Linked DNA regions of Homo sapiens: all the other regions are linked to region 1. The links come from fine-mapping of genetic effects on gene expression. A gene starts in region 1. Each other region holds a variant in brackets. All regions are shown on one strand. Distances are between the middles of the regions. Region 1 holds the start of CFDP1 (craniofacial development protein 1). Region 2 overlaps CFDP1 (craniofacial development protein 1). Region 3 overlaps CFDP1 (craniofacial development protein 1).

Evidence for each region.
Region 2: its variant is fine-mapped to the expression of CFDP1 in whole blood (INTERVAL, PIP 0.99).
Region 3: its variant is fine-mapped to the expression of CFDP1 in blood mononuclear cells (TOPMed, PIP above 0.99). The same link has a PIP of 0.9 or more in monocytes and monocytes after LPS.

What each region holds. Positions count from the first base shown.
Region 1 is chr16:75,429,939-75,438,123 of GRCh38, forward strand. It overlaps CFDP1 (craniofacial development protein 1), which reads right to left and starts at 3,565. Exons shown (of 7, transcript NM_006324.3): 1 at 3,351-3,565. The coding sequence starts at 3,414. LOC124903723 (tigger transposable element-derived protein 1-like) reads left to right here and starts at 5,266. Exons shown (of 1, transcript XM_047435019.1): 1 at 5,266-6,282. The coding sequence starts at 5,364. The coding sequence ends at 6,161. RefSeq lists silencers at 1,545-1,744, 3,001-3,240 and enhancers at 3,551-4,060, 3,604-4,171.
Region 2 is chr16:75,372,006-75,380,190 of GRCh38, forward strand. The region is part of intron 5 of CFDP1 (craniofacial development protein 1); the gene reads right to left. Among named protein-coding and RNA genes, the nearest start is that of CFDP1, 57 kb to the right of the region's middle. RefSeq lists an enhancer at 4,602-5,099. The variant A/T (reference allele first, on the strand shown) is at 3,332.
Region 3 is chr16:75,344,414-75,352,598 of GRCh38, forward strand. All of the region lies in intron 5 of CFDP1 (craniofacial development protein 1), which reads right to left. Among named protein-coding and RNA genes, the nearest start is that of CFDP1, 85 kb to the right of the region's middle. The variant A/G (reference allele first, on the strand shown) is at 3,883.

The DNA.
Region 1 (8,185 bases):
GGTTGGGGTGCAGCTTGGTTTTATATATTTTAGGGAGGCATGAGACATCAATCAAATACATTTGAGAAATATACTGGTTTGGTCCATTAAGACAGGACAACTCGGGGTGGGAGTGCTTCCAGGCTACAGGTAAATTTAAAAATTTTCTTGTTGGCAACAGGTTGAGTTTGCCTAAACAGAAAGGAATGTCTGGGTTAAGATAGAGGTTGTGGAGACCAGAGGTTTTTTTTGTTTGTTTGTTTGTTTTTTCGAGATGGAGTCTCACTCTGTTGCCCAGGCTGGAGTGCAGTGGCGCAACCTCAGCTCACTGCAACCCCACGCCCCTGGTTCAAGCAATTCCCCTGCCCCAGCCTCCGGAGTAGCTGGGATTACAGGCACACGCCACCACACCCAGCTATTTTTTTATATCTTTAGTACAGACAGGGTTTCACTATGTTGGCCAGACTGGTCTCCAACTCCTGACCTCAGGCAATCCGCCCACCACAGCCTCCCAAAGTGCTGGGATTAAAGGTGTGAGCCACCGCACCTGGCCACTTTTTTTTTTTAAATGGAGTCTTGCTCTGTTACCCAGGCTGGAGTGCAGAAGCATGATCTTCACTCACTGCAACCCCCACCTCTTGGGTTCAAGAGATCTCGTGCCTCAGCCTCCCCAGTAGATAGGATTACAGGCGCCCGTCACCACACTTGGCTAATTTTCATATTTTCAGTAGAGATGGGGTTACACCACGTTGGCCAGGCTGGTCTTGAACTCCTGACCTCAAATGATCCACCAGCCTCTGCCTCCCTAAGTGATAGGATTATAGGCTCGAGCCACTGCTCGGCTGAGAACACAGTTTTATCATACAGATGAAGCTTTTAGCAGACAGGCTTCAGAGAGAATAGGTTGCAAAATGTTTATTATCAGACTTAAAGTCTGCATCGATGTTAATGTCAGAGACATACAATGAGGCAGGTTCAGCCCCCACTTCCCATCATGGCCCAAAACAGTCTCTCAGGTTAAATGTTAAAGAGCCCTGGCTAAGGAGGAAGTCCATTCAGATGGTTGGGGGCGCCTTAGAATTTTATTTTTGGTTTACAGCAGTTAAGTACATAGACAGCTAAGTAGCAACAAAAAATGGCAATTATTAGCACCAGAGAAAACAAGAAGTGCAGGAAAAGTAATCTGTATAACATACGGTTCAGCTGTCAACATGATGTTTATTCACACTGTCATTAGAAAAAAAAAACACTGGGCCTGGCACGGTGGCTCACGCCTGTAATCCCAGCACTCAGGGAGGCCGAGGCGGGCAGACCATTTGAGGTCAGGAGTTTGAAACAAGCCTGGCCAACATGGTGTAACTTCGTCTCTACTAAAAATACAAAAAAATCATTCGGGTGTGCTGGCGGGGACCTGTAGTCCCAGCTACTCAGGAGGCTGAGGCAAGAGAATGGCGTGAACCCGGGAGGCAGAGCTTGCAGTGAGACGAGATCCCGCTACTGCACTCCAGCCTGGGAGACAGAGCAAAACTCTTGTCTCAAAAAAAAAAAAAAAAAAAAAAAGAAAAGAAAAGAAAATCGATCGGGTGTGCTGGCGGGCGCCTGTAATCCCACCTACTTAGGAGGCTGAGGCAGAACTGCTTGAACCGGGAAGGCAGAGGCCGCATTAAGCAGAGACTGTGCCACTGCACTCCAGCCTGAGCCACAGAGCGAGACACTGTCTCGAAAGAAAAAAAAACACTGAATACTGATCTAACTAAAACTGGACACAGGTTCAACGGCAGACTACGGAGTTGGGGAGGCCCCGAAGGTGGAAGTGTTTGTGTGTGTGTTTGGGATGAGGGGAAGGAGGTCAGGGGCTACTAAAAATGATACCTACTATACATGGGTTAAATCAATAGACAACAGAAATATAATACCAAATTCAAAAGGTGGAAAGAAGTTTCTCCTGAGGAATATTAAATAAAATAGGGATGAGGGTGATGGGACTGGCTAACTTTTTTTTTTTTTTTTTTGAGACGGAGTCTCGCTCTGTCACCCAGGCTGGAGTGCAGTGGTGTGATCTCGGCTCACTGCAACCTCCACCTCCCGAGTTCAAGCGATTCTCCTGCTCCAGCCTCCTGAGGAGCTGGGACTACAGGCGCGTGCCACCATGCCCAGCTAATTTTTGTGTTTTTAGTACAGACGGGGTTTTACCATGTTGTCCAGGATGGTCTCGATCTCCAGACCTTGTGATCCACCCACCTCAGCCTCCCAAAGTGTTGGGATTACAAGCATGAGCCACCGCGCCAGGAATGGAATGGCTAGTTTTCAACGTGCCTTTTAGAAATACTTCACTAGCCGGGGCGCGGTGGCTCATGCCTGTAATCCCAGCACTTTGGGTGGCTGAGGTGGGAGGATCACTTGAGCCCACGAGTTCGAGACCAGCCTGGGCAACATAGCAAGATGCCATTTCTAAAAAAAAAAAAAAAAAAAAAAATTTAAAAAATTAGCGGGCGTGGCAGCCTGCACCTGCAGTCCCAGCTACTCCAGAGGCTGAGACGGGAGGATCGCTTGAGCCCAGGAGTCTGAGGTTGCAGTGAGCCAAGATCGCATCACTGCACTCCAGCCTAGACAACAGCAAGACCCTGTCTTTAAATAAAACAGAACAGAACAAAGTAAAACAAAGAGAATAGGGACGACTCCTGGGTTGTGTTTTGTTAGTCTGTTTGTTTCTTGTTTGTCTAGTCTTTCAACTGAAGATGTGAATGGGTGAAGATACTTTCAACGAGACGGTTTGTCTGGGGAAGACCAAGAAGGGGGAACAGAAAGATTTCTTCAGTAAGATTCATTCTCACCCCGTTCGGGTTGAGATCCCTAAGGAAAGAAAGTTCTGAGAGGAGAGGATGGGTGGACGTCACAATGAGGCAAAAAGCATCAAAGGGGGAACTTTCTATCAGAACTTTCTAACAACCAGGCGGAGAGCGGACAGCTCTATCTTGGACGGGGTGGTGGCCAGCAGCTCTCTCGGGCCAGGGCTGAAAAAAACCTCCAAGGCTCGGACTGCCGCCCCGACTTCTGAAGCAGCGGTGTCGTTCGGGGCTGACCGACGAGCGTCCCTAGCGACAAGGGGCCGTGTCCATGTGCCGGTTCCCGCGCTGCAAGAGGGGGCGGCGGCCGGAGCTGCCCAACGGGAGGGGAGCACAGAACCGCCACGCGCACACGCCTCGGGCCGGAGCGGCCGAGGATGAGGGGCCTGAGGGAGCGGACGCTCGAGAACAGGAGCCCCCCTGGACCACCTGGGCCACAGGGCAGACGCCCGCGGGGGCAGAGCGCGCCTCACGTGAGGCGTGGGGCGGGGCAATTCGCTTCTCGCCTCAGGCGGAATCGCTCACCCGACGGCACGTAGTCCTCGTCCTCCTCCGACGTAGAGAAGTCTTCGGAGTCGAATTCCTCCATGTTGCTGCCGCTCGACGCTGGTCAAACTCACAAGACCGCAGCAGCCGCCTCCAACGGCAAAGCTCTAGGGAGAGACCATAGAGCCCCGGCGGCGGCGACGGCAGCTAGGGCGGCCCCCGACAGCGCTTTGCACATGCGCAGAGAGTACTACGTGGTTGCCCTACGACACTTCCGGCCGATGCCTCCGGGCTGGCGTCCCTGAAGCCCTCGCTGGGAGCCCGAACCCGCCCGGACGCGGTGCATGCTGGAACTTGTAGTCTTCGGCGCTGCCTCGCCGCCTTAATATAATAAACCTGCTTAAATAAAATTACATATCTATGGAAATACAGGTGACCTTCATTAATCATTAATTCGTAATGCCAAATTCACTTACTTGCTAAAATGTATTTGTAACCCTAAAATCAATCATCACGGTACTGTCTGGGGTTCTTCCCGGGCATGCGCAGAGGGTGAAAATTTGGAGTTGGCGGAGGTAAGGTTCCCAGCTGAAGTTTGAACTGGGAGAAGCGCCGCCTTCTAGTCGCAGCTCCTGTGCTGTAAACAAAGAGTCCTTTCCGCAGTCTGTTTACTGACACTTTTTTTTCTGCTTTTTGTGGGTGGTTTTGCTTTCTAAAATGGCCCCCAAGCGTAGTGCTTAAGCTCTGCCCAGTGTTCCTAAGCGAAAGAAGACCGTGATGTGCCTTACGGAGAAAGTCCGCGTGTTGGATAAGCTCCAATCAGGCATGAGTTACAGTGCTGTTGGCCATGAGCTCAATGTTAACGAGTCGACAATCCGGTACATCAAGAAAAAGGAAAAGGAAATTCACCGATCTGTCCGTGAGGCCGCTCCGGATAGTGCTGAAGTGACCTCCATCGTGCGTGATGAAGCTATGACAAAGATGGAAAAGATGGAAAAGCGGCTAAATTTGTGGATTCATGAGATGTCAATCGATTAAAAAAAACATAGTGGACAGCATTGTGGTGAGGCTGAAAGCCAAAGATATCTGTGGTCACGTTACCCAGAGTCAAAGAAATGCTAAGCCCTTCTCGGCGAGTGCTGGCCGGCTCGCGCGTTTCAAAAGGCGATACGGGGTGAAAAATGTTAAACTTGCAGGTGAGGCGAGCTCTGCAGATCAGGAGGCTGCGGAAGAATTTTAAAAATACTTGCTAAGTGTTATACAGGAAAAGGGTTATGTGAAAGAGCAGGTTTTCAATGCGGATGAGACTGGCTTATTTTACAAGGATGTTGGCAAACGAACCTATATAATGCAAACGGCCTCCAAAGCCCCTGGCTTTAAATCATGCCAGGATCATGCACCCTTGTTATTGTGCGCCAATGCCAAGAGCGACTAAAGTGCAAACTCCTAATGGTGTAAAGAACCCAAAATCCACAAGCACTTAACGGGAAATACGTGAACCATCTGCCAGTCTATTGGAGGTGGAACAAAAAAGTGTGGATGATGTCTGATTGGTTCCACAACTGCTTCATCCCAGAAGCTGAACACTGTCTCCAGGGCAGAAACCTTGCCTTCAAGGGTTTTTTGTTTTGTTTTGTTTTGTTTTTTGTTTGTTTGGGTTTGTTTTGTTTTGGTTTGGTTTTGAAACGGAGTCTCGCTCTGTCGCCCAGGCTGGAGTGCAGTGGCGCAATCTCGGCTCACTGCAAGCTCCGCCTCCCGGGTTCACGTCATTCTCCTGCCTCAGCCTCCCGAGTAGCTGGGACTACAGGCGTCCACTACCACGCCTGGATAATTTTTTGTATTTTCAGTAGAGACGGGGTTTCACCGTGTTAGCCAGGATGGTCTTGATCTCCTGACCTCATGATCCGCCTGCCTCGGCCTCCCAAAGTGTTGGGATTACAGGCGTGAGCCACCGCGCCGGGCACCTTCAAGGTTTTGTTAATTTTGGATAATGCTACAATCCATTGCTGCAAAGAACTCGAAAATGCACACGCCAACATAGGAGTTCTTTTTATGCCCCCAAACACTAAGTCTCTCATCCAACCCCTCAATCGGGGCATAATAAAAGCATTCAAGGCACACTACACAAGGGAGCTTTATATGAAGGCCTGTGAGGCTCTCAGGACCAACAAGGAAACCACCATGCTGGACTATTGGAAGTCGGTCACTACATGCAACGTTATTGATTATGTCAGTACAGCCTGGGAGAGCATTGGTCAGGCTACTACCAATAACTGTTGGGAAAATGTTTGGCCAGACTGCGTGGAGAATTTTGAAGGGTTTGAAGGTGTTACAGAAAATATAAAGAACACTGTCAGAGACATAATGCATATGGCACAGCAGGTAAGTGGAGAGGGCTTTGATGACGTGAAGGAAGGAGATGTGGAGTACATTTTGGCAGAGAAGGCAGTGGAACCAACCAACGAAGACCTGGATGAGATGGCAAAAGAAGGCATTGGAGTTGATGGCCATGAAAGTCGGCCCAAGACTTCCAGAATTGTCCCTCTCACAGCGCCAAAATATCAGAATGGAGTTCTGCCTTGGAAAAAATTTTTAGCGACATGGAAGAGTGTGACCCTACGCTTGATCGAAGCCTCAAATTTAAATGGCTGGCCTCCACTGCGTTTGCCCCTTATACCGAGATGCTTAAAGATTTCAGGCAGAAAAGCCAGGCAGGCAAGGCTAATGCAATTTCTCAAGCCAGTTTGGGAGGGAAGATTGCCCACTCCTTCAACAAGTGTCAAGAGCCAGACTCCTAAGGTAGAAATGCCAGAGGTTGACCTGCCACCCTCTTCCTCTTCTGCAGAATAAATTTCACTCACCCCTCCCCTGGTTTCTGTGGGGCAAGCCAAGGTCGAGAGGTTTAACCACATTGTGCAGCTCCATCAACCGTAAGATTTTAGTTGATATTTTTATAAAACTTAGGATGCTCCATCTTTGAACTTTTTCCCTTTATTTGTATTGCTGTACTGTAGGGTATACAGTATGTGTGCAAAGTAGTGTATGTGTTTACTGTGGGAACTGTACAGTATGTTATACTGTTGACTGTATATGGGAACTATATGTGTGTACTCTGTGTGTGCCAATGAAAAGGTTGTACAGGCTGGACGCGGTGGCTCACACTTGTAATCCCAGCACTTTGGGAGGCTGAGGTGGGCGGATCACAAGGTCAGGAGTTCAAGACCATCCTGGCCAACATGGTGAAACCCTGTCTCTACTAAAAATAGAAAAATTAGCTGGGTGTGGTGGTGGGCGCCTGTAATCCCAGCTACTCAGGAGGCTGAAACAGGAAAATCGTTTGAACCTGGGGGTCGGAGGTGGCAGTGAGCCAAGACCATGCCATTGCACTCCAGCCTAGACAAAAGGGCAAGACTGACTCAAAAAAAAAAAGTAGTGCAATCTCAGTACACTAGAGTACATTACACCAAACTACTGTCATTGAAATTTTATTGTAAATACTGCAGATTATTTTTAAGAAATACATATTAAATAAGGTGTCTTTGAACAGAAACACACATAAAACAAAGTTACATACCGATCAGTTGACAAAAGTGTTGACCAGAGGTTCACAGGAACCTAACCCTGTATTTCTCCCAGGACCCATGGTTCGGTTTTTGCTAATTCAATGTTCTCGACAACTTTATAGCCATAACTACTGTGAATACAAAGAATTGACTATTCAGGAATGCAGCCATCATCCACAGGAACCCTTCAAGTTAAACCATATGGAAGTACAACCATATATAATCTTTACCATTTCTTCAGATTAAAACATTTTAATGATCTATTTATGAGGTAACAATCAGAAGCAAATTCAGAAGAGACACCAATGACTACCACACTATTTGGTTTTGTTTGTTTTTGAGATGGAGTCTCTCTCTGTCGCCCAGGCTGGAGTGCAGTGGCGCGATCTCGGCTCAATGCAACCCCCACCTCCCTGGTTCAAGCAATTCCCCTGCCTCAGCCTCCCAAGTAGCTGGGATTACAGGCGCACGCCACCACGCCCGGCTATTTTTTTTTTTTGTATTTTTAGTAGAGACGGGGTTTCACCATGTTAGCTAGACTGGTCTCAAACTCTTGACCTCAGGCAATCCGCCTGCCTCGACCTCCCAAAATGTTGGGATTACAGGCGTGAGCCACCGTGCCCGGCAACTATTTGTTTATCTTGTATACAAATATGAGTTTTTGTCAGCTGAAATTGCTCCTCATTGACACTCTGGACTAGACTGGGTCTGTAAATCCAGGAAATCAAGAAATAAATCTTTTGTGAATCAAGGAATAGATGAGACATGCATGTGATTAATAAGACATTGCAATGGCTCTATACCAGCAAACTTTTAAAAATAGCCTTATTGATTGGGAGGCTGAGGCAGGCGGATCACAAGGTCAGGAGATCGAGACCATCCTGGCTAACACGGTGAAACCCCGTCTGTACTAAAAAATATAAAAAATTAGCCGGGCGTGGTGGCAGGCGCCTGTAGTCCCAGCTACTCGGGAGGCTGAGGCCGGAGAATGGCATGAACCTGGGAGGCGGAGCTTGCAGTGAGCCGAGATCGCGCCACTGCACTCCGGCCTGGGTGGCAGAGGGAGACTCCGTCTCAAAAAAAAAAAAAAAAAAAAGCCTTATTGAGACACAATTCACACACCATAAAATGTACCCATTTAAGTGCACAACTCAGGCCAGGCGTAGTGGCTCACGCCTGTAATCCCAGCACTTTAGGAGGCTGAGGGAGGTGGACTACCTGAGGTCAGGAGTTCAAGACCAGCCTGGCTAACATAGTGAAACCCCATCTCTACAAAAATACAAAAATTAGCTGGGCATGATAGCATGTGCC
Region 2 (8,185 bases), 58 kb before region 1:
CAAAACAGCTCTATGAAGTAGGAATTATGATCCCTATTTTACAGCTAAAAGAATTAAGTAAAACTATTATTTGCACCAGGCAATCCTGTTCAAGTCAAAAGCATATATAATACTCTACCTATTTCTAAAAAAGGAGCCAGCAATAACCATGACAGCTTTCTCTTCCCTATACTGTAAAATATAAGAAGTCCAAAGTAATAGCTATAAGAAGGGTTTTAATCTGAAGAGTTTGACAGAGAACTAAGAATCCCCAAATAATCAAAAAGAAAAACTCATCACATCTAGTGGTAACAAAATTCGGATATATATGGTTTTCATATCTGTTCATGAATAACTCAACAATGGGCAGCAAAAACACACCCACAATTTCAAGACTCTGGCCAGGAGTGCTGACCAGCCTCAATAAAATGTCAGCTTGCTGCCAAAGGATCCAGATCAGTGGAATTGTCCAGTTCTCTAAGGAGACAATGCAGAGTTGCCTGCAGACTGGTTCTGAAATCGAACCAGAACTAGAACTTAAAAACAAAAAGCAGATCAATCTCTAGGCATCAAATTTCTTCTTCCTGAAAGAATAAACAGAAAACCTAAGTGAGTTATTCTAGCTGTACCTCAATCCAGGGTTTAGTCTGGAAGCCAATCTACTTGCTCAACTGTTTGCAAAGTTCATTCAACTCTTCCTCCCAGGTTTTGTTTCATGAGAGAAAAATAAAACCATCATCTTTTGGCAAGATGGAGTATTAACTTTTCTCCTGGTATTGCTGTCACTCACAGTTAAAAGAAAATGCACGCACACACAAATACATACCCTTTAAATGTCTAATTTAAATCCTAAATAACCCAGAGTACATGTGAGGGAGGAGAAAATAAAAGCCTTAGCAAGGAATATTTTAGTTCCAAAATTCTAAAGGCAAACTGCTAACTGAAAAGGGAAATTAACTTTATCAACTGTAAAAGAAAAAAATTCAACATCTTGTTGTTTTAAAGGAGTTCCCCGGCATGGAAGCAGATCATACACTTGATTCCTGATGCAGGAACTGAAACAACTCTGGCCCAGAGATAAAAGGGTGACAATTTGCTTGACACACCTATGCTGGAGCAGCTACTCCCATCTGTCTACTTTCCCTCCTTCCCCTAAAAGCTACTTAAGTCTCGGTTTATCCAGTTACATGTGCTAAGTGAAAAGAAGGCATAATTCCCAAGCCACGTTTTTGGAAATAACATGGTGACCCATTTCAACACTTACACACACAGATGTTAAATTAGCCAAAGTATATTTAAATAATCTCATCTCATTCATTCTTGCTAATGCTCATAGATTCATTATCGTATTGGACTTTCTTCCCACAAAATGACTGGCCTTATACCAAGTTTTATAAATATTAAAAAGGTTGTTTTGTACTAAAAAAGAAAATAACTGGAGGAGAGGGAAGCTTCTCAAAAGAACTTTCACATGGTGGGTAATATAAATGTCGCTAAGATAAGATACACAACGCTGGATTCTTTTTCTCTGTGACCCCTGCCCACCCCCCATTCTACCTAAACTCACTGTGTAACTAATCATGAACAAAAGAGAGGCACAGTTTGAATTTCAGCTAGAGATACACACTGTATTCAAAGGGTTTGCTTCCCTAAAGACTGTATTCTTTTTATTTTTATTTATTTATTTTGGTATGAACGGGGTCTCCCTATGTTGCCCTGGCTGGTCTGAAACTCCTGGCTACAAGACTGTATTCTGCTCTAGATACGAAGCCATTTTGTCCTTTACAAGGGAAGCCTTGACTTCCTCTACACAATTTACTAATCCTAATTGTAATAAGCATTTCCATTTGAGAAAAAAATTCTGGTAGGAATTGTATCATCTTTCTAAACATGAGGCAATCTTTACAAACATACTGTTTCTCAGAAAGAAAATGATAAAAAACCTAAATGTCTGTATAGGGAGTTAGTTTTGAAAATTATAGAACTGGCCAGGCACGGTGGCTCACACCTGTAATCCCAGCACTTTGGGAGGCCAAACCAGGTGGATCACCTGAGGTAAGGAGTTCAAGACAAGCCTGGCCAACATGACGAAATCCCATCTCTACTAAAAATACAAACATCAGCCAGGCGTGGTGGTGGGTGCCTATAGTCCCAGCTACTTGGGAGGCTGAGACATGAGAATCACTTGAACCCTGGAGGTGGAGGTTGCAATGAACCGAGATCGCGCCACTGCACTCCCGAGACTGTCTCAAAATAAAATAAAATAAAATAAATTATAGAATATTCAAAGTAGAACACTATACTAGCCATTAACAAGAATCAGATAAATGTATAGGCAATAAGATGAAATATGTTAGTATATGTATTTTTGTATTTTCAAGCAAAAAATACAAACTTCAGGAAAATAGGCTTAGATTACTCCATTTATATAAATAAAAAACACTTATATGTGAACAGAAAAGTATCTCATACAGATACACATTCATATACATAGATTACTAAATGCTTAGGGAAAGGTCTAGGACAGAGCTGTCAAATAGAAATAAAATGGGCGGGGCATAGTGGCTCACACCTGTAGTCCCAGCACTTTGGGAGGCTGAGAAGGGAGGATCAGTTGATCCCCGGAGTTTGAGACCAGCCTGGGCAACATAGTGAGACCCCATCTCTTAAAAAAAAAACACACAGAAATAAAATGGGAACCACATACCTAGTTTAAAAACATATTTTAGCCCTATTAAATATAAAAAGAAACAACTGAAATTGTTTTTAATACATTTAACCCAATATGTCAGAAATGTTACTGTTTCAACAATGGAACTGAAATAAAAATTGACTGCTTATTTTTTCTTACTAATTCTTCAAAATTTAGTGTGTATTTATACCTATAGCACATCTCAATTCAGACTGGTGGCATTTCAAGTGTTCAACAGCCACATATAGCTAGTGACTACTCTACTGAACAGTGGAGACCTTACAAAAACCCCACCAAATTATTAACTTTCATTTTGTCTTCTATATCTCTGTGTTGCTTGAATTTTTAGAAGAACACGCATATATTGCTTCTATGTTTCTAAAAAAAAAACCTAAATGTGTCCATATATGAAAATTAATTCAAGGTACAAAAAAAACCTAAACATAAAAGCCAGGACCATTAAAAAAAGGCAAAATCTTCTCAACCTTATAGGCAGATTTCTTAGGACACAAAAAGCACTAACTGTAAAAGACGAACTGAATATCAAAATTAAAAACTCTGCTCATCTAAACACACCACCAAAAAAATGAATAAGCAAGACAAACACTAAGAAAAATTCTTAGCATTTACATCTGACAAACTATCTATATTCAGAATATA[A/T]GAAGAACTCCTATAAACCAATAACAGAATAAAACAACCCAATAAAAATGGGTAAGATTGGAAGAGTCACTTTACACATGAAAAGATGTCATTATTATTAGTTTTCAGAGCAATGCAAACTAAAATCAGAGGAGATACCATTTCACACTTACCCAAATAAAAAAGACTGACAAGGCTGGGCGCGGTGGCTCATGCCTGTAATCCCAGCACTTTGGGAGGCCGAGGCGGGTGGATCACCTCAGGTCAGGAGTTCAAGACCACTCTGACTAATATGATGAAACCCCATCTCCACAAAAAATACAAAAATTAGCCAGGTGTGGTGGCATCCACCTGTAGTCCCAGCTACTCCAAGGCTGAGACAGGAGAATCGTTTAAACCCCAGAGGTGGAGGTTGCAGTGAGCTGAGATCATGCCACTGTGCTCCAGCCTGGGCGACAGAGCGAGACTCCATCTCAAAAAAAAAAAAAAAGACTGACAACATCACATGTGAACAAGGATACGTATGGACCAAGTAGAACCCTCATACATCACTGGCAAAATATAAAATGGTACAACCATCTTGAGGAACTGTTTGGCAGTTTCTTATAACATTAAGACTGAGCGTTGTGGCTCATGCCTATAATCCTTGCAGTTTGGGAGGCTGCAGCAGGAGGACTGCTTGAGCCTAGGAGTTTGAGACCAGCCTGCAACATGGGGAGACCCCATCTCTACAAAAAAATTAAAAATTAGCCAGACATAGTGGTGTGCACCTGTAGTCCCAGCTACTCGAGAGGCTGAGGTGGGAAGATCTCTTGAGCCACAGAGTTCAAGGCTGCAGTGAGCTGTGATTATGCCATTGCATTCCAGCCTGAGTGACAGAGCAAGACCCTGTCTCAGAAAAACCAAATCAAAACCAAAACAAAAACATTAAGCACACATCTACTCCATGACCTAGCAATTCCATTCCTAGGTATTTAGGTACCCAAGATAAATAAAAACATATGTCTTCAAAAAGATTTGGAAATAACCCATACGTTTATCAGCAGGATAGATGGATAAACTGTGGTATATATGAACAATTTATAAAAAGCAATGAACCACTGATATACACAGCAACATGATAAGTCTCAAATACATGTTCTTTCACTGTAGGTAAAAGAATCCAGGCACAAAAATTTAAAAAATGTATGCTTTGATTTCCATGACGTTCTGGAAAAGCAAAACTAATCTATCATGATAAAAATCAGTAGTTGCCTGGGGCAAAGAGCATAGGGCAAAAGCAACTGGAAAGGGGCATGAGGGAACTTTCTGGAGTGACGGAATCATACTATACCTTATCTTGGATAGTGGCTATGAAGTAGTAGGCAGGACAGGATTCCAGAGGCAGGGCTTGGATACCAAACCAAATTGATGACTAGCTAAAACAGGTATGGGGCAGAAGCGGCTTTCTGTAAGACACACCCACCAGTGTGCTATGTCAGTTTACCATTGGTATGACAACACCTGAGAGTTACCGCCCCTTCCCAGAGCAATGACCTGACGATCCAGAAGTTATTACCCTTTTCCTAGAAATTTCTGCATAAACTGCCCCTTAATCTGCATGTAATTAAAAGTAGATATAAATATGACTGCAGAACTGCCCTGAGCTGCTACTCTCAGCACAATGCCTATGCGGTAACCCTGCTCTGCAGGAGCAGTCAAGGAGCTGTTAACACTGCCGCTTCAATAAAGCTGTTTTCTTCTACCACCAGCTAGCTCTTGAATTACTTCCTGAGCAAAGCCAAGACCCTCCAGGGCTAAGCCCCAACTGGGGGCTTGGCTGTGCCCTGTATCAGTTATATGGATGTATTCAATTGTGAAAACTCATTAAATTGAACACTTAAGGCCCCTGTGATAATGAACCTACCTCCTGCCATAAAAGTCAAATGCTATGGGAACCAAAAAGCAGTACTTAATGAATGCTGTTTGATACATGATGAATAGATGAATACATGAAGACTGAGAAAATATTGAAGTGTGGAGTATAATTATCATTAAAATGCTCTCCATCATTCTTCTACCACTATATTGGTGTGAGTCCACACAAATCTCTTCAATTTATTGACCAATCACAATTAAGATGATATCCTTGTCTCTCTGAAATCCTGCTCTATTTATAACTCAACTCTTTCTTGAATATTTCCAATGAATGTCCATATAACAAGCTTTCCAGCTGAAGTAACAAAAGAAATAAAGAAAAGAAAAAGGTGGCAAAGAAGAAACTAAATGTGAGAGAAGATATGAAAAAGACTCCTTGTGTTCAAGTACAATCTAGTCAATTTAGTTCCAAAGGAAGAAAAACATGAAGTCACTAAATATGCTCCTAGTTGAAGGTCAGGGAAACCACTCAGAAAGGCCAACAGTTTGCTTCTCCACTTCTCGAGGTTCACTCAGTTCTATTGTGTTCTCATAGGCAGTAAAAACCAAAAGAAAATCATCCAAAGCAACAAACATGCAGTTGCCCCAAACTGCTTTAGCAATAAATAGAATTTCATGCTGAGTGGCAGACTGTTTAGCTCACATTCCTGTAACGTCCCCTACATCTATTTCACGCAGCAACTTCGCTAGCAGTCACCAGCCACAGCCTGAACACTGTAGTAACAGGGCACATTATACATCAAAATCCCTTAGATACATTTTAACCCAGCATCTATGGTAGAAAACAACCAAGAGTTTCTTGTTATCCACAAGGCAAGCCAAAGTTAAGTGCAGGAAAGGCTGAGGGAATACCATGTGCTTCCTTTCTGACTGGAAAACAAGGCTTCCAGGCAACACAGCAGGGTTTCTGTGCACTCTGACAGGGATGTGCGTTGTAAGCTGCATTGCTATGGAAACAACACTTCTACAACTAGAGGACAAGTCAACCTGAAATAAAGGAAATAGCAGGAATTGCAAAATAGGTCTTGTGGAATGAGTAAGGAGCATCTCACGTCTCTGCTTGAACTATGGCATGATTAAGCTGAAATAAAATGTCATTCCAATCATATAACAGACATTTACAGTCTGTTTTTGGGGTCAGCTACTTGCTGAACACAAGCTATGAAACCAAAACCACCCTGCTTTTAAGATGAAAACTGACAAAATATGCAAAACTAAAAGGATAAGAACTAAATTTCCACAGATCAAAGTTTTAAAAAATGGTGATCATTAATAAAAGCTATTCATTTACTCCTTAATCAAATACTATAAATTATTTGCCACGTACCAGGCTGGACACATACAAAAAAGACAAAATCTACGCCTTCAAGCTCACAGCGTAGTGATGGAGACTAAGGTGTAAAACTGACGATGAGGGAGTATGGGATAGTTAGTGCTACAATAAAGGCTATTAAACAAATGCAGTTGCAAAGGGGTAGTAGTTAGAGTTTAGTGCAAGACACAGACACTGACTGGCCGACAAAAAAGGAATTTATTTAAAAGATATTGGGGTAAAAACAAAGATACTGGTCTTTCCAAGTGTCCACAGAATATACAAGACAGACCACATCCTGGCCCATAAAATTAATATCAACAAATTTAAAAGAGTTGAAATCACAAAGAATGTGTTCACCAGCAACATGATCAAACTAGAAAGCAACAACAGAAAGACAACAGAAAACTCTCTGAAAACTTGGAAATGGAACAATACACTTCTAAATAATGCATGGGTCAAAAAGAAAGTCTCAAGGGAATTAAAAAAATAATGAACGGAATAAAATCATACATGTATCAAAAATTGTTGAATATAGCTAAAGCAGTGTGAGGGAAATGTGTAGTAAGAAATACATACAGTGTAAAGAGGAAAAGTCTCAAATCAATAATCTAAGCTCCAACTTCAAGAATCTAGTAAAAAAAAAGAGCAATATATAGGCAAACCAAGCAGAAGCAAGGAAATAATTATAGAAGTAAATGAAATTGAAAACATAAAGGGAAAGATCAATGAAACAGAGCTGGTTCTTTGAACAGATCAATAAAATCGACAAACGTCTAGCAAGACTGACCAAAAAAAAAAGAGAGAGAGAGAGAAGGCACAAATTACCAATATCGGAGGTAATGAAATGGGATATCACTACAAGTATCAAAAGGATAAGAGAATATTATGCAGAATTCTACCCAAATAAATTTGGCAACATAGACTAATTCCTCAAAAAAGACAAACCACAAGACACTCAATATGAAAGAGCCCTGTAACTATTAAGGAAACAATTTGTCATTTAAAAACTCCCAAAAAGGAAATCTCTAGATTAGTGATTACCAGAGGTTAAGGAGGGGGTGAGGGCAGGAGGAAAGTGTATGTAGCTATAGAGAACATGAGGAATCTTAGCAGATATGAAAATGTTCTGTATCTTGACTATATCTGTCAATGTAAATATCCCAGTTGTAATATTATAAGATGGTACCATAGGGGGAAACTGGGTCAAAGGAACAAGGAATCTCTGCACTAGTTTATATGACTACACATGAGTATACAACCTCTTAAAATTAAAGGTTTATTTATTTATTTTTTTAAAGGTAAAGGGATTGCTGGGCGTAGTGGCTCATGCCTGTAATCTAAGCACTTTGGGAGGCCGAGATGGGCATATCACTTGAGCCCAGGAGTTTGAGACCAGCCTGGGCAACATGGTGGAACCCTGTCTCTACTAAAAATACAAAAATTAGACAGGCGTGCAGGTACTCATTTGTAGTCCCAGCTACTTAGGAAGCTGAGGCAGGAAAATCGCTTGAACTCAGGAGGTGGAGGTTGCACTGAGCTGAGATTGTGCCACTGCACTCCAGCCTGGGCAACACAGCAAAACTCCATCTGAAAAAAAAAAAAGAAAGAAAAGCTACATAGGGTATCTGCACTTAAAGCCGATG
Region 3 (8,185 bases), 86 kb before region 1:
ACAAAATCATGGGACTTATGCCATTAGAAAAGTAACTATAAAATAATGGTACAATTCGTGACTGAACAACCACGTTATAGCTTATGTTCAGATATTTTATAGTAGGCGTGTATTCACCTAAGAAAAACCAAAACAAGAAGAAAAACTGAATGAAAAGCTACTCAAAACAAATCTTCAGAAAGGGACTAATAACCCTTACAAAGAGCCCAGAAGTAACATCATTTAGAAAGAACATCCTGGCTGGGCACAGTGGCTCACACCTGTAATCCCAGCACTTTAGGAGGCCCAGATGGGTGGATCACAAGGTCAGGAGTTTGATACCAGCCTGGCCAATATGGTGAAACCTTGTCTCTACTAAAAATACAAAAATTAGCTGGGCATGGTGGTGCGTGCCTGTAGTCCCAGCTACTTGGGAGGGTAAGGCAGGAGAATCACTTGAACCCAGGAAGCAGAGGTTGCAGTGAGCTGAGATCGTGCCACTGCACTCCAGCCTGGGCAACAGAGGGAGACTACATCTCAAAAACAAAAAAAGAAGAAAGAAAAAAAGAAAGAACATTTTCAGGCTGGGTAAAGTGGCTCGTGTCTGTAATCACAGCACCTTGAGAGACTGAAGTGGGAAGATCACTTAAGCCCAAGAGATCAAGACCAGCCTGGGCAATCCCAGCACTTTGGGAGACTGAGGCAGGAGGTTCACTTAAGCCCAAGAGTTTGAGACCAGCCTGGGCAACAAAGCAAGACCCCATCACTACAAAAATAAAACAGGCTGGGAGCAGTGGCTCACACCTATAATCCCAGCACTTTGGGAGGCCGAGGCAGGTGGATCACTTAAGGTCAGGAGTTTGAGACCAGCCTGGCCACCATAGCAAAACCCTGTCTCTACTAAAAATACAAAAATTAGCTGGGCATGGTGGTACATGCCTGTAGTCCCAGCCACTCAGGAGGCTAAGACATGAGAATCGCTTGAATGTGGGAAGTGCAAGTTGCAGTGAACCTAGACCGTACCACTTTACCTCAGCCTGGGTGACAGAGTGAGACTCTGTCTCAAAAACAAAACAAAACAAAAAAAAACAAAACATTATCTGGGCATGGTGGCTATGCATCTGTAGTCCCAGCTACTTAAGAGGCTGAGCAAGAGGAAGGAGGACTGTTTAAGCCCAGGAGTTCAAGGATGCAGTGAACTATAATCATGTCACTGTTCTCCTCCCTAGATGACAAAGACCCTGTCTCTTAAAAAAGAAAGAAAAGAACATCCCAAAGTCTGCAAGAGAGTTTGGTAATAAGAGATCAAGATCATATGTTTTTTTCATGCCATGAGTTGTTAAACAAAAGATCATTTGTTTTCTTACTGTGATCAGTTAGACCACCATGAGGAAAATAATTAAGTAAACTTTAAAATCTTGAAAAATGCTGAAAACTTTGAAAAATGTTCAAGGCACATGACAGTGGGTCCTAAGTTGGTGCTCATTTGCTGTAAGACCTGGTCATGTCATCGGTGACTAAGCTGAGGCTGCACCAGAGAACATAATCAAGGTCTTCTAGATATGAGGTCTGAGGCTTCCAGGTCTCTACTCAAGAAGAAATCTGAATGCATGTGAAGTGAAAAAGAATTGGATGGTAGTGTGAGCAACACGGAACAATGGCTCAAATGTCAATGTTCAGTACTCCCAATGCATCTCCCATGAGCACTTCACTGTGCTTAAATTCTGCTGAATCCTCAGTGTTTACTAGCACATGTGAAGTGAAAGTAACAGAAAGGTGGTGAGATTGTGTCCTGGATTCTGACATCAAAGCTGTAGGTAAATGTAAATGAAGTAGCCCAAGGACCAGGAATGTCAATGTGCTGAAGTTCTCTAGGGGTAAACTCTCCAGTGTAAAGAGCACCAGGTAGGGCTGGGCATGGTGGCTCACGCCTGTAATTCCAGCACTTTGGCAGGCCGAGGCAGGTGGATCACGAGGTCAGGAGATCGAGACCATCCTGGCTAACACGGTGAAATCCCATCTCTACTAAAAATACAAAAAATTAGCCGGGCGTGGTGGTGGGTGCTTGTAGTCCCAGCTACTCGGGAGGCTAAGGCAGGAGAATGGCGTGAACCTGGGAGACGGAGCTTGCAGTGAGCCGTGATCATGCCACTGCACTCCAGCCTGGGTGACAGAGCAAGACTCTGTCTCAAAAAAAAAAAAAAAAAAAAAAAAAAAAAAAAAGAGTACCAGGTGGACAGGATGAAGGAAGCAACAATAAACTAAGTTTTATATAATCGATATTGGATATACTTTGATTTTCCAAGATAGCTCTAAAATCTTCCACTCAAAAAAAAAAAAAAAAAGTCAGCACCTACTACAAAAGATTGATATGCCATCCAAACTCTGGAAATAATTTTGCCCCATTCCTCTTCTCTGAGGTGGTATTTTGCTGCCTAATCAAAACTCGAAAATCTAGTTAGTCAACAGGACTTGCCCACCCCACTCCTGAAAAAAAATTCTGCTTAGCTTGGGAAAACACAGATGGTCTTGTCTGTCCTTCCATATGACAGCAAGTAGTTGGTGTCACAATGCGTCCCGGGAGCAGGAGTTCAGTAACAAGGGTCAGCATTTCTTTATTAATAGCATGAAAATGCATCCCAAGTGACCTTCAAAATAGAAGAAAGAACAGGCCAGGCACGGGGGGCTCACACCTGTAATCCCAGCACTTTGGGAGGCTGAGGTGGGTGAATCACGGGGTCAGAGTTCGACAACAGCCTGGTCAACATGGTGAAACCCTGTCCCCACTAAAAGTACAAAAAGTCAGCTGGGCATAATGGCGGGCGCTTGTAATCCCAGGTACTCAGGAGGCTGAGGCAGGAGAATCGCTTGAACCCAGGAGGCGGAGGTTACAGTGAGCCGAGATCGGACCATTGCACTCCAGCCCTGGCGACACAGTGAGACTCCATCTCAAAAAAAAAAAAAAAAAAAAAGAAAAAGAAAAAGAAAAAGAAAAAAGAAAAAAAAAGCAGGCGCAGTGGCTCACGCCTGTAATCCCAGCACTTTAGGAGGCCCAGGTGGGTGGATCACGAGGTCAAGACATCGAGACCATCCTGGTTAACACGGTGAAACCCTGTCTCTACTAAAAATACAAAAAATTAGCTGAGTGCAGTGTCAGGCACCTGTAGTCCCAGCTACTCGGGAGGCTGAGGCAGGAGAATGGTGTGAACCCGGGAGGCGGAGGTTGCAGTGAGCTGAGATCGCGCCACTGCACTCCAGCCTGGGTGAAAGAGCGAGACTCCGTCTCAAAAAAAAAGGAAGAACAAAGCAATACAAAACCATAAATTTAAAGGGAAAACTTTACAGTGGAGACATCTGACAAACTCCATCTTGACCAAATGATTAAAGTTAATATGAGTAATACACTGATATATGAGAAAAGGACAAATCCCCTCTCTGGTGGTCTCTCCAACATCCATAACCTCATTCTCATCATGCGAAATCACGAAGCAAACCCAAATGAAGACACACTCTACAAAATACCTGGCCAGCACTTTCCAAAGGCAATGTCATGAAAAATAAATATAGGCTGAGAAACTGTCATGGGGCGGGAGAAGACTAAGGAGACATGACAACTAACTAAATGTGGAAAATGGGTTTGGGTCCTGGAACACAAACGGTTATTAGTGGGAAAACTGTCAAAATCTGAAGTCTATCGTTTAGTTAATGGCGCTGTACCAATGTTAATTTCTTTCTTTTTTAGAGACAAGGTCTCACTTACTATGTTGCCCAGGCTGGAGTACAGTGGTGATTCACAGGAGTGATCACAGCACACTGCAACTTCAAACTTCTGGCCTCAAGCAGTCTTCCCTCCTCAGTCTCCAAAATAGTTGGGACTGCAGGTGTGAACCATGCTTGGCTCCC[A/G]ATGTTAATTTCTTAGTTTTGATAAATGTACTAAGATTATATAAGATGTCAGCATTAGAAGAAGCTGGGTGAAGCGCTTATGGGAACTCTGTACTATCTTTACAACACTTCTGTAAATCTAAAGTTATTTCAAAATAAAATTTAAAAACAATAAACAAAAAAATCAACTTTAAGCCCAAAGCCTAAAATTTCTTGGGCTCTGCTTTTGTGGCTCATCTTGAATGGGAAAGAAATGCTCATTTAATATTAAAAACCTGCAGTAGACCATAAGTTGTTTTTTTCTTTTTTGGCTCACTTTATATTTTTAAAATTCAAATTTTACTGCAGTAATTATTTACTGCAAGCTTTTTTTTGTATTGATATAATTTGCACATCATAAGATACAGCTCTTAAGTGAATCATGTCTGTGTTGCCATATTATCTTTCAATCCATGAACATTAAATGTCTTTACTCAGAACTCATTAATTTCTTTGAACAGTATTTTGTAGATTTCAGCATACAATTGTGCACATCTATTGTCAAAGTTATTCCTATTCTTTTTGATGCTTTTGTAAATGGAACTGTCTCCATTTAATTTTTGTTTTCAGAGACAGGGTCTTGCTGTCTGCCACCCAGGCTGGAGTATAGTGGTACGATCACAGCTCACTGCAGCCTCAAACTCCTGGGCTGGAGCGATCCTCCTGCCTCAGCACCCTGAGTAGCTGGGACTACAGGGGCATGCCACCACACCTGGATAACTTTTTTTGTTCGTTTTCTGGTAGAGATGGAGTCTCTGTTGATCAGGCTGGTTTTAAATTCCTGGCCTCAAGCAATTCAGCCTCTTAAAGCCTCCCAAAGTGCTAGGATTACATCCATGAGCCACTGCACCAGGGCTGTCTCCTTAATTTCATTTTTGGATGGTTCACTGCTAGTTTATAGAAATACAGTTCTTAGGCTGGGTGCGGTGGGTCACACCTGTAATCTCAAGGCACTGTGGGAGGCCAAGGCAGGTGGATTACTTGAGGGCAGTTCAGGACCAGCCAGGCCAAAATGGTGAACTCCCATCTCCACTAAAAATAGAAAAATTAGCCGGGCGTGGTGGCGGGCGACTGTAATCCCAGTTACTCAGGAGGCTGAGGCAGGAGAATCACTTGAACCCGGGAGTGGAGGTTGCGGTGAGCCAGGATCATGCCACTGCACTCTAGCCTGGGTGACAGAGCGAGACTCTGTCTCAAAAAAAGAAAAAAAAGAAATATAGTTCCTAGCACTTTGGGAGGCTAAGGCAGAAAGACTGCTTGACCCCAGGTTGAGAATGCAGTGAGCTGTGTTTGTGCTGCTGTACCCCAGCCTGGGCGACAGAGCGAGACTCCGTCTCAAAAAAAAAAAAAAAAAAAAAAAAAAAAAAAAAAAAAAAAATATATATACATACATATATACGGTTGATTTTTACATATTGATCTTGTATCTTGTAACCTTGCTGAACTTGTTCATTAGTTCTAATCAATTTTTAGTGGATTGCTTAGGATTTTCTCCATATTAGAGCATACCATCTGGGAATAGTTCAACTCCTTTCTCTCCAATTTGGATGCCTCTTGTTTCATTTTCTTGTCTAACTGCCCTGGCTAGAAGCACCAATACAAAGTAGAATAGAGATGGCATGAGTAGACATACTTGTCTTTTTCCTATCTTAGGAGAAAAGCATTCGGTTTTTCATGATTAAGTATGACATTAGTGGTGGGTTTTTCATGGATGTCCTTTATCAGATTGAGGAAGTTCCTTCTATTCTTAGTTTGCTAAGTGTACTCTGTTCTTTTTTATAGCTGAATAATATTCTACTGTTTGGACATACATTTTGTTCATCTGTGTTTATCAGTTGAAAGTCATTTGAGTACCTCTACTTTTTGGATGAATAATGCTGCTATGAACATATGTGTGCAAGTTTTTGTGTGGATATATGTTTTCATTTTTTGTGGGTATATGCACAGAATTGTTAGGTTGTATACAGCTCTATGTTTAACTTTGAGAATCTGCCAAACTCTTTTCCTATGTGGCTACACCATTCTATATCCAACCAGCAAGGTATGAAGGTTTCAACTTCTCCATACCCTTGCCAACACTTGCTATTTCCATCTTTTTAAATTATAACCATCCTAGTGGGTGTGAAGTATTATCTCACTGTGGTTTGATTTGCATCTCTCTAATGAATAATTATGTATTATAAGCTCTTTTAAATTAAGTATTGTTATTTTTAAATTATTACAGACATTTAATCAGACACTTAATTGGCCATAACTTAAGTAGAGGATAGCCTTAAATTACGTTGAAATCCTTGCCAGAAACCACAAAAACATATAAGCATAAGACTATTCATTGCAAGACTCTGTAATAACAAAAGACTAGAAGCAACCCAAATGTTATCAAAGAAAACTAATTGAACAAACTGGTAATTCATACAATGAAATACTTTGCATCCGAAAACAAAATAAATGAGGAAACTCTCAAATGAAAAAAAGTAGAGAAAATTGTATATGGTCTATTACCGTTAATCCAAGATACGCAAGATAAATAAAAATTTAAATGGGAACAAAAGCAATTCCCAAAAATAAATGAACCTAATGTGTCCAACTGGTAACATTACTACAAACAGAAAAACTACTTCAAGTGACTTTAGAACACAGAAATTTGACTATACATTTCTAGTGAGATAAAATCTAATGACAAAAAAAAACTGCAAAAACAAAACAAAGCACAACAAGCCAATTTAAACCATTTGTACTAATCATACATACAATAGGTCAATGTATGTATTGTGAAATAAAATAAATGGATATTTATATGACATCTCATCATTCCGGTGTTTTGTTCTTAGGAAGGTAGAAGCTTCAGATTTAAGATAACCTGAGAGTTCTAAACTTGATTTGTAAGTAGCTGTACTGTTTCTAAAGTAAAGAAATAAAAATAAGACAAAGCAAAACATAATTATTTACTCTATGTATTGATAAATCCTTGAAACAATAACCAACTCAGTAGCAACTGGCATTCTTATCCCTAATGTCTTGAAATAATGTTTCCCACAGAAAGAAAGCAGGGCTTCCAGATTAGATGACTAATACCAGGTCTGGGACAGGAAATGTACTAAAGGGGCCTGGAATGTTTTGTTATGCCATACAGGGATGGAAGCTAGCAAAGACTATTAAGGTCACTATCAAAATAACTAACTAATTTGAAGAACTTATTTGTCAAATATAAAACACTTTGAGAATCAATAAGGATAATGACTGCAATGGACTGAAACAACATCAAATGTTTAAATTCATGAGTTCATAATAAAAAAATACAAATTAGTTACTATGGAGGAGGTTAGTGTACCAATCAATTTTGAAAATGAAAGGGAAAATACTTATCTTTCCTATATGAATTGGGAAAATAAAAGGATATGAAAAGGTAAATAGCCAAGTGTGGTGGCTCACGCCTGTAATTCCAGCACTTTGGGAGGCTGAGGGAGGTGGATCATTTGAGGTCAGGAGTTCGAGACCAGCCTGGCCAACATAGTGAAACCCCGTCCCTATTAAAAATACAAAAATTAGCCAGGTGTGGTGGCACACGCCTATAATCCCAGCTACTCAGGAAGCTGAGGCAAGAGAATCACTTGAACCCGGGAGGTAGAGGTTGCAGTAAGCCAAGATTGCGCTACTGCACTCCAGCCTGGGCGACAGACTGAGACTCTGTCTCAAAAAAAAAAAAAAAAAAAAAAAAAAGAAAAGGTAAATGAAAGAATTTATTCGCTGGGTGCTGTGGCTCACACCTGTAATCCCAGCACTCCGGGAGGCTGAGGTGGGTGGATTACTTGAGGTCAGGAGTTTGAGACCAGCCTGGCGAACATGGCAAAACCCTGTCTCTACCAAAAATACAAAAATAAGCCAGGCATGGTGGTGCGTGCCTGTAGTCCCAGCTACTGGGGAAGGTGAGGCAGGAGAATCGCTTGAACCCAGGAGACGGAGGTTGCAGTGAGTCGAGATCACGCCACAGCACTCCATCCTGGGCAACAGAGTAAGACTTTGTCTCAAAAAAACAAAACAAAACAAATTAAAAACCAACAAAAAGACCACCCAATTAAAAAAAAAAGAATTTATCTTCCTATATGAATTGGGAACCAAACAGAGAAGGAGATGAGACTTATTATCTTTAGAAGCATTACAACAAATAAATGAAGAAATGATAAAATTAGACTGCCATCATTTCATAACCATAAGTGTAATAAGTGTATCATAATCATAAGTGTATCTCTATCTTTTTAAAAAAATAATAATTTTATTACAGGGA